Linked DNA regions of Homo sapiens. The protein of the gene in region 2 purifies or fractionates together with the protein of the main gene of each other region. This does not show direct contact. Each region holds a gene or a part of one and is shown on either strand. Other genes may lie near its edges.

The links. Proteins that work in one complex are often made in the same cells at the same time.
Region 1: the proteins of TMEM170A (region 2) and FAM241A purify together in Homo sapiens (affinity purification with mass spectrometry; one large-scale study listed by BioGRID and IntAct). This does not show direct contact.

Annotation. Positions count from the first base shown.
Region 1 is NC_000004.12:112,183,454-112,186,953, reverse strand, and holds part of FAM241A (uncharacterized protein FAM241A), read right to left. Parts: intron 262-3,500; coding exon 16-261; 3' UTR 1-15.
Region 2 is NC_000016.10:75,461,890-75,466,113, forward strand, and holds the start of TMEM170A (transmembrane protein 170A), read right to left. Parts: upstream 2,801-4,224; 5' UTR 2,712-2,800; coding exon 2,579-2,711; intron 2,555-2,578; exon of another isoform or gene 2,362-2,554; coding exon of another isoform or gene 2,343-2,361; intron 1,618-2,342; coding exon of another isoform or gene 1,531-1,617; intron 1-1,530. UniProt on the Homo sapiens protein: Acts as a regulator of endoplasmic reticulum (ER) and nuclear envelope (NE) morphogenesis. Affects the ratio between tubular ER and ER sheets by promoting sheet formation at the expense of tubules.

The DNA.
Region 1 (3,500 bases), on a different chromosome or scaffold from region 2:
CAATTCGGCCATGTTTTACTGTTGCACATAAATAATAACAAGGCAAAGAACAGCAACTAGTCCAAGGGCTTGCAGGCCAAGGAACCACAGCATAACCCAAAAGAAAATGACTATTACTGGTTCCACTATTCGTTCTCCAAAATACATCCTTGTGAAGCCCATGTTGATAAGGTTTTTGTTCAGTTCACCAAAAAGTGTTCCCATTTTCTTGTAGTCATCTCCAACCGGCTCACCAGTGTGGTTCTGTGAGTCTTCAACATCCTTTAAAAAAAAAAAAAAAGACAAAACATGAACATAACATGAGAAATATGTAAACGTCTTTAAGAACCTTAGTTCTTCATCTTCCAAAGTGCTGGGCATACTTCTGATAATTATTCTACAAGTACCTGTTAACACAATGGGAATGTTCTTTTTGATCCTGGAATTGCACAAAAATGACTGCTTAAGTGAAGAATCATGTTTGTATTTCTCTTGTGAGTGACCATGATTTCAGAACACCCTTTTCTGCCACCCTCCTGTTTTATGAGGCAAGGCCTGACTGCTCTGTCCTGGTAAGATTCTTTTTAGACGGTTCCTTTGACACTAAGACGTTAAGAAACCGAGCCTCAGATGACCAAAGCATGTTTGCTGTTATTATTGAGCAATCCTCAGCCACTACTGCTGTGATCTTTGTCTTAGGCTCAGCTAAGCAGACTTCAGCGCAGGCCCTTGCATAGTTTCCTGTTCATTATATAGATGCCCTAAATGCCTCTTATTAATTTCATCAGGAGAAACAAATAGTTTTAATACAAATTTTTTTTTTTTACAATAAGGCCAAATGTCTACCCAGTAGTTAGTATCCCAGAAAATGTCTACATGCACCCAATTATACATACCTAAAGTATTATTTCTATTATCTTCCACTTGTATTATAATTAAGGCCATGACAGTAAGCTACTGTCTCTTGGCTTCAAACCCACTCTTTGGAATTCTGCAAGCATTTCTGTCTCCCTGTTAGGCTCTGCCAATAGAGGGACCAGCGTGACACTTCACAGGTAGAGAAGGAAGAAGGAATTTGCTGTTTCCTTCGGATGGGTTTCTTAATCCTGTTAAGTCTCACTCTAGCAACAATTCTTCACTCCGACAGCAATAGTGCCTGCTAGTAGTAGCAGCTGATTGCAATTTGGGGGTTTTCCAACACTTGTAGAACCAATCTCAATGTGCCTTCTTGAGATGCCAGCTCCAATTACTGGGTGCTTCTTCCTCAGATACCTGGTTCCCAGGTCTATAGGCTCCCTCCTCTGAACTCAGAGAAATCAGTACCAGGCAAGCAGTGACCTGTTCTCAAAAGTCTGAATTTCAGTTCCATGGGGGCCTTTTTGAAGCTTCTCAGTTTCAGTAAGTCCATCCATCTCTTTTTCTTTCTGCCCAGTCCTATGAGTGGTTGTCTTGGTGATATTTTAGTGCAGTGGTTTTTAAACTTTAGCATGCGTTAGAATCCGCTGGAGGGCTTGTTAAAGCACAGCTTGCTGGGCCTACTACTAGAGTTTCTGATTCAGTAAGTCAGGGGTGAAGTTGGAGTCTGAGAATTTGCATTTCTAGGAAGTTTCTAGGTGATGCTTATGATGCTGATCTGGTGACCATGCTTTTCCAATACCCAGTTAACAATTACTTATATTAAATTATCTTTGTTAAAATAATTGGTATAGTTTCTCTCCCCCTCCCCACCGCCCCAGACCCTAGTAGAATCACAAAAGAAAAACTGTCATGTAGGTGAGATAATTATAATTTATTTAAATATATTTTATTTAGGAGGCATGATTCAAATAATTATTGAATTATTTGCTCATAGTATGTACATGATGGAGAATTTATTATACGTTTAAAAAGCCTTTAGATATAGGGCTTCACATAATAAGTATTAAATACCATTAAGTATGCCGTATAGGCCAAAGGAAAGCAAAATTAATTATCTTATAAGGGAGTGTCACAAAATCATCTGCCACAAACAGCCAATGAATTTGAGGAAATTTTAAGACATTCTTCAAACATCTGAATCAAACTTACATTCTTTTAGTAGAAACCAAAGCTTGATCATTTCAGTCATCGATCAGTAAATAATTAAAAATATTTTTTTCATTAAAGAAATGGCTATATGAAGCCTTATTTTCTATTGTACACATAGAGTTTAAAATAAATCTTTAAGGGAAGAGTGAAAAAAAATCTAACTTTTGTTTAAAATAGAAAATCAGACAAAATGATTTTCAGTATGACTTTAAGAAATGGGCTTTTCCCATATACTAGTAATTTATGTACAGTAATGAGTACCAAGGGGGACTGATGAGGTAGTAGAAAAATGAGACTCACTGGGGCATCTTTGTTGAGTCTACATCATGTGTTCAAGCCAGATTTACTTTTGAGCTATACTTTTATATAATTTTTTTTTTTGAGACAGTTTCTTTCTTGTTGCCCAGGCTGGAGTGCAATGGCACAATCTCGGCTCACTGCAAACTCCACCTCACACTTCAAGCAATTCTCCTGCCTTAGCCTCCCAAGTAGCTGGGACTACAGGCATGCACCACCATGCCTGGCTAATCTTTTGTATTTACTAGAGACAGGGTTTCACCATGTTGGTCAGACTGGTCTTGAACTCCTGGCCTCAGGTGATCCACCTGCCTTGGCCTCCCAAAGTGCTGGAATTACCAGCGTGAGCCACTGTGCCCGGCCTATTTTATATAATTTTTAAAATTACTTTTGGATTTTCACTTCTATCAGAAAAAGAGTGAGAAGAACAAAATGTTGTAGAGTTATCTAGGGAGTTCACATCCAGGCTGCAACACTTTAACTGAGTGACATGACCTTAGCCAAATTACTTCACTTTTCCTGAACTTCAGTTTTCTAATCCATAAAATGATTTATGTGATCCTTTTTTGATACTGATAGTTTTCTCTTAAGTTATAATTTGTGGATCTTTTCTTTTTTTAAAAAATTGATTTCTAAATTATTTTTTCCTTCACTGATATATTATGACTGGGTCAATTTTATGTTTCTTGTACTTTGATATGATCCATAACAATATACTACATTTTAAAAAAACCCTTATTCTTGCCTAATATTAAAGCTTTCTTTTCTTTAGGGTAGAACTTGAAGAGTCCTCGATTTAGTATGTAATTCTGCTGATCCCTCATCCCTCTCTATTTCTCCAGTGTTCAGCATGTTGATACTGTTTCTGGCCTTTTTTTCTTCATTTTTTATTAAAGTTCTTAAAAAAATTTTTTTTTTTACTCTTCCCAATTTCTTGTAATCTATGCACTCATTGTACTTTGGGGTTTTTTTTGTTGTTACTGAAGCTTTTTAAGACTTTTTTTTTCAGTATTTTTGTGGTTTTAGTACGAAGAAAGTACCCTAATCTGGATGTGGTAGGTACTGTCTGAAGGTTTAAATTCTTTGTAAAATAAATTAAATCTACAAATGCTTGTGGGTTTTTCAGGGGAAGAAGGAGGTGTTGCAACACTTAAATC
Region 2 (4,224 bases):
ACAATTCACATGGCTACAGATTACCTACTGTGATGTATTAAACCTATCCCAAATCCACTTATCTCAATCTTTTCTTAATGAAAGGGAACTAAAAGCCAGAGACTCAACAGACTATTCAGTTCCAACTTATGACCCTACATATGACGTTTAATTAACAGAGGATGCAGGAACCCTTACAGTAGAGAGTTCTGATAGACATCATCTTCACCAAATGATCAAACTTGGTAGTAAAGAGAGGATGCAGATACCCTTACAGTAGAGTTTTCATAGACACCATCTTCACCAAATGATCAAACTTAGTATTATCAATGAAGATACAAATTGACATTCAATGTCTCTTTTTTTGTTGAGACAAAGCCTCGCTCTGTCACCCAGGCTAAAGTGCAGTGGCGCAATCTTGGCTCACTGCAACCTCTGCCTCCTGGGTTCAAGAGATTCTCGTGCCTCAGCCTCCCCAGTAGCTGGGATTACAGGCACACACCACTACGCCTGACTTTTTAGTAGAGACAAGGTTTTGCCATGTTGGCCAGGCTGGTCTTGAACTCCTGACTTCAGGTGATACGCCTGCCTCAGCCTCCCAAAGTGCTGGGATTACAGGTGTGAGCCACTGAGCCAGGCTGACATTCAGTGTCTCTTGATGTGATGTACTGGTGAGTGGACGTCACCTAGGTAGGTAGCGTTCTGACCAAAAATGTTTAATCTAAATCTAATCATGAAGACCATCTAATGAACCTAGATTGTAAAACAGTCTATACAACAATTCACATGGACTCTTCCAAAATGTCCATCTTAAAAAATTCAAACAAGGAAGTAACTGTTTTAGCTAAATGAAACTAAAGAGACGGACAACTTAATGCAATGTGTGAACCTTAGATCATGGAATATATATATTTTTTTAAGGAAAAAAATCTATGTGGACAATTGGGGAAATGTAAACAAGGCCCACACATTAGGTAACATTATTCTATGATGTTCAGTTTCTTGGATGTGATATGGTTTCATGGATAGAAAATGGTTTTTAGAAGATACATGTTAAGATTATCAGGCATCAAGCAAGTGTTATGACTTCTGCAACTTCCTATTGAATGACTCGAGTTGAAATGGGACATGTGACCTACATCTAAGTGTGATACGTATGTAATACATGTGGTTATATATATAGAGAGAGAGAAAGAGAGCAGAGAGAGAGAAAGAGAAACAGAAAGCCAAAGAATCAAAATATTACTGAGTCTAAGTAAAGGGTACATGGGTATTTGTTATACTGTTCTCTCAACTGTTTGGCAGGCTTGACATTTTTCAGGAAAGGGGAAAATTAAGGAAACAAAGATTAATCTGGTCCCAGTAGTGCCTCCAGATTGCACGAACATTTCATGTATCACACAGGGTCACCAGAATACCATCAATTTTTTGATATCACTGTCAAAAGTGATCCTAGCACCTTCTGAAATAACGTGAGCTGCCAGATTCTCATTTCAGGAATGACCACAAGCGAACATCTGCATCTGACCCCAACCTGCCTGATGACCTTACCCGCTACTTCACAATCCCGTCCGGGAAAATCCCTGGGCACATAACACTGCAAGTCCCAGGTGTCCGCTGAACGGCGCCTGGCAGTCGCTGCCCAGGGGATGAGAAATCACAGGTGCCTTGTTTGGAACTAGAGTCTGGAATCTCGTCCTCCTTCCCTCTGCTCTGGTCCCTCATTGTTTATGAAGACCTCAGTCCCCTCTGCTGGGAGCCCCACCTCCCCTTCCAGGGCCACGGGCTCTAGTCTTCTTGCCTTTCAAGGACCACACAAATAACTGTGCCTCCCCTCAAAGCTTTTCTCCTCCTTCCCAAGTGAAGTCCTCTCTCCTCCCTCCAGCTTTCAGGGCACGGAGCGCTCTTCCTGGCATTAGAATTCTGAGCAACCCTCCTAGCAGGCCCAGCTCAAGCCGCAGCGGGGAGGAAGAGTTCAAAGGAAGCTGTGCCAAAGATCTCGAAGGCTTAGTGGGAGACCCAGCAACAGGTGGCACCAGGTCTGGGAAAGATTCCTAGAAAGCGGAGCGGGTCTCGGAGGGGGAGGATTTAGCCCCAGGCGCCCGCGATCAGCGAACGAGCGCCTGCGCGGAGGGGCCGGGCTGCAGCCCCGGGGCAAGGGGAGCGCGAGCTCTGACTCCTCAGCGCGGCCGGGCCGCTCCGAGACCCCTCGAAGGAGGCCGGGCGCCGTGGGGCAACCCAGGCAGGGCGGGGACCACAGCCTCCCGGGCTCGTGGGGTGCAGCTCTGAACCTGAGGCGCTCGGAAGCTCAAGGCCAAGACCCGCTCGGGTGGCGGCCGAGCGCCCTCCAGCCCCGGGCCCACCTGCGGCCGCTCTCTGCATCTCACGCCCAGCGGGACTCCGGGGCTCCGCCTCAGGGACCGCCGAAGAAGTGATGGGGAAAGGGGCTCCGGGCGAGCAGCACGGCCCCCCTCCCGGAGGACAGCGCCCACGCCGCCAGCAGGCTGCGCACCCGGGACCCCGCCCAGACTCGGGGCGCCCACAGCACGGCAGCGGCGACGGCGGGGCGCGCAGTGCGCAGGCGCGGGGCGGGCCGTACCTGGGAAGGAGCAGAGGGAAGTAGAGTTGGGGCACAGGGTCCCGTTGCCCACCCGCGGCACAACCTTCAGGCTCAGGATCTGCTGCAGGAGCCCGGCCGACCCGCCGCTGCCGCCGCTCCCCTCGCGCTCCATCCCGTCGCCATTCACCACAGAGAAATGAGGGACGAGCGCCCGAAGTGCGGTAGCGGCCGGCGCCGACTCACCCTCGCCGCCTCAGCGTCACCTCCAGCCGGGGTCCTCTTCCCCCAATCCCAACGGCGCTGCCAAGTGACCGTTGCCTCCTCCAATCACAAGGCGCCGCAGCGCTCGGGCGCAGGGCCAGGGTTGTTCCCGCCCCCAACGTTGCGCAGGGCTCGCAGAGACACAGCCCCACGGACGCGCCCCCTCCTGGACGGCGCGCTCTGGGACCGCGCGCTCTGCTCTGCCCTTCTCTGCAGCGCCCCCTGTGAGAAAGTAGGGAATTGCATGCGCCCCAACAGAGCCGCGCTATGGAGTTACCAGGGATCTGGAAAAATACAGTGATGGAACGGATATGTAAAGTTCTAGTTATGACTGGACTCCAGCATTTATGAAACCTTCATGAACAGAACAAGAACGTTCTCTATTTAAAGCTGATAGTAGAAAGAGCCCATGCAAAGTCTGGTGTGGGACCAGAATGGGAGGGAGGCTATGTAGCCTCTATAGAGCTCGACTTAGTTTTAAATAAAATAAAATGTACAGAGATTCGGTTCAGAGCAATAAAATTAGATCACACTTTTTTCTTTTTTTTGAGACGGAGTCTCCCTCTGTGACCCAGGCTGGAGTGCGGCCGCGCGATCTCTGCTCACTGCAAGCTCTGCCTCCCGGGTTCACACCATTCTCCTGCCTCAGCCTCCCGAGTAGCTGGGACTACAGGCGCCCGCCACCACGCCCGGCTAATTTTTTGTATTTTTAGTAGAGGCGGGATTTCATCGTGTTAGCCAGGATGGTCTCGATTTCCTGTCCTCGTGGATCACACATTTTTGTCTCACCTCCCTTCAGAAAGCCTGTTAAAATGAAGGCAGAGAAATCGTAAAAAGGAATAAGCTAATGTTCAGTTTGTTTGCACTGCTGTAACAAAGTACCTGAGAGTGGGCAATTTATTAAGAACAGAAATTTATTTTCTCACAGTTCTGGAAGCTGGGAGGTCCAAGATCAAGGTCGCAGCAGGTTCCATGTCTAAGGACGGCCCGTTCCTCACTGATAGCACCGCCCGGGCGTCCTCACACGGTAACAAAGGGAGCCCACTCTCCAAATCCCTTTTATAAGGGTCCTAATCCCATAACGGGGGCTCCACTCTTCTGACTTAATCGTCTCCTAAAGGCCCCTCCTCTCAGTACTATCGCATTCCCACGAAGTTTCAGGACATGAATTTGGGGGAACACGTTCAGACCATAGCAGCCATTAACAATAGTGTTCTGGAAGGGAAGTTACCAAGGATAAGTAATGTCCACAAGGTTCCAGGTGATGAAGAGGCTTGTGACGAATAATAATGTTTTTGTTTGGTTGGTTGGTTTGTTTTGAGACAGAGTCTCACTTTGTTGCCCAGGCTGGAGTGCAGTGGCGAAATCTCAGCTCACCGCAACCTCCGCCTCCCTGGTTCAAGCGATTCTCCTGCCTCAGCCTC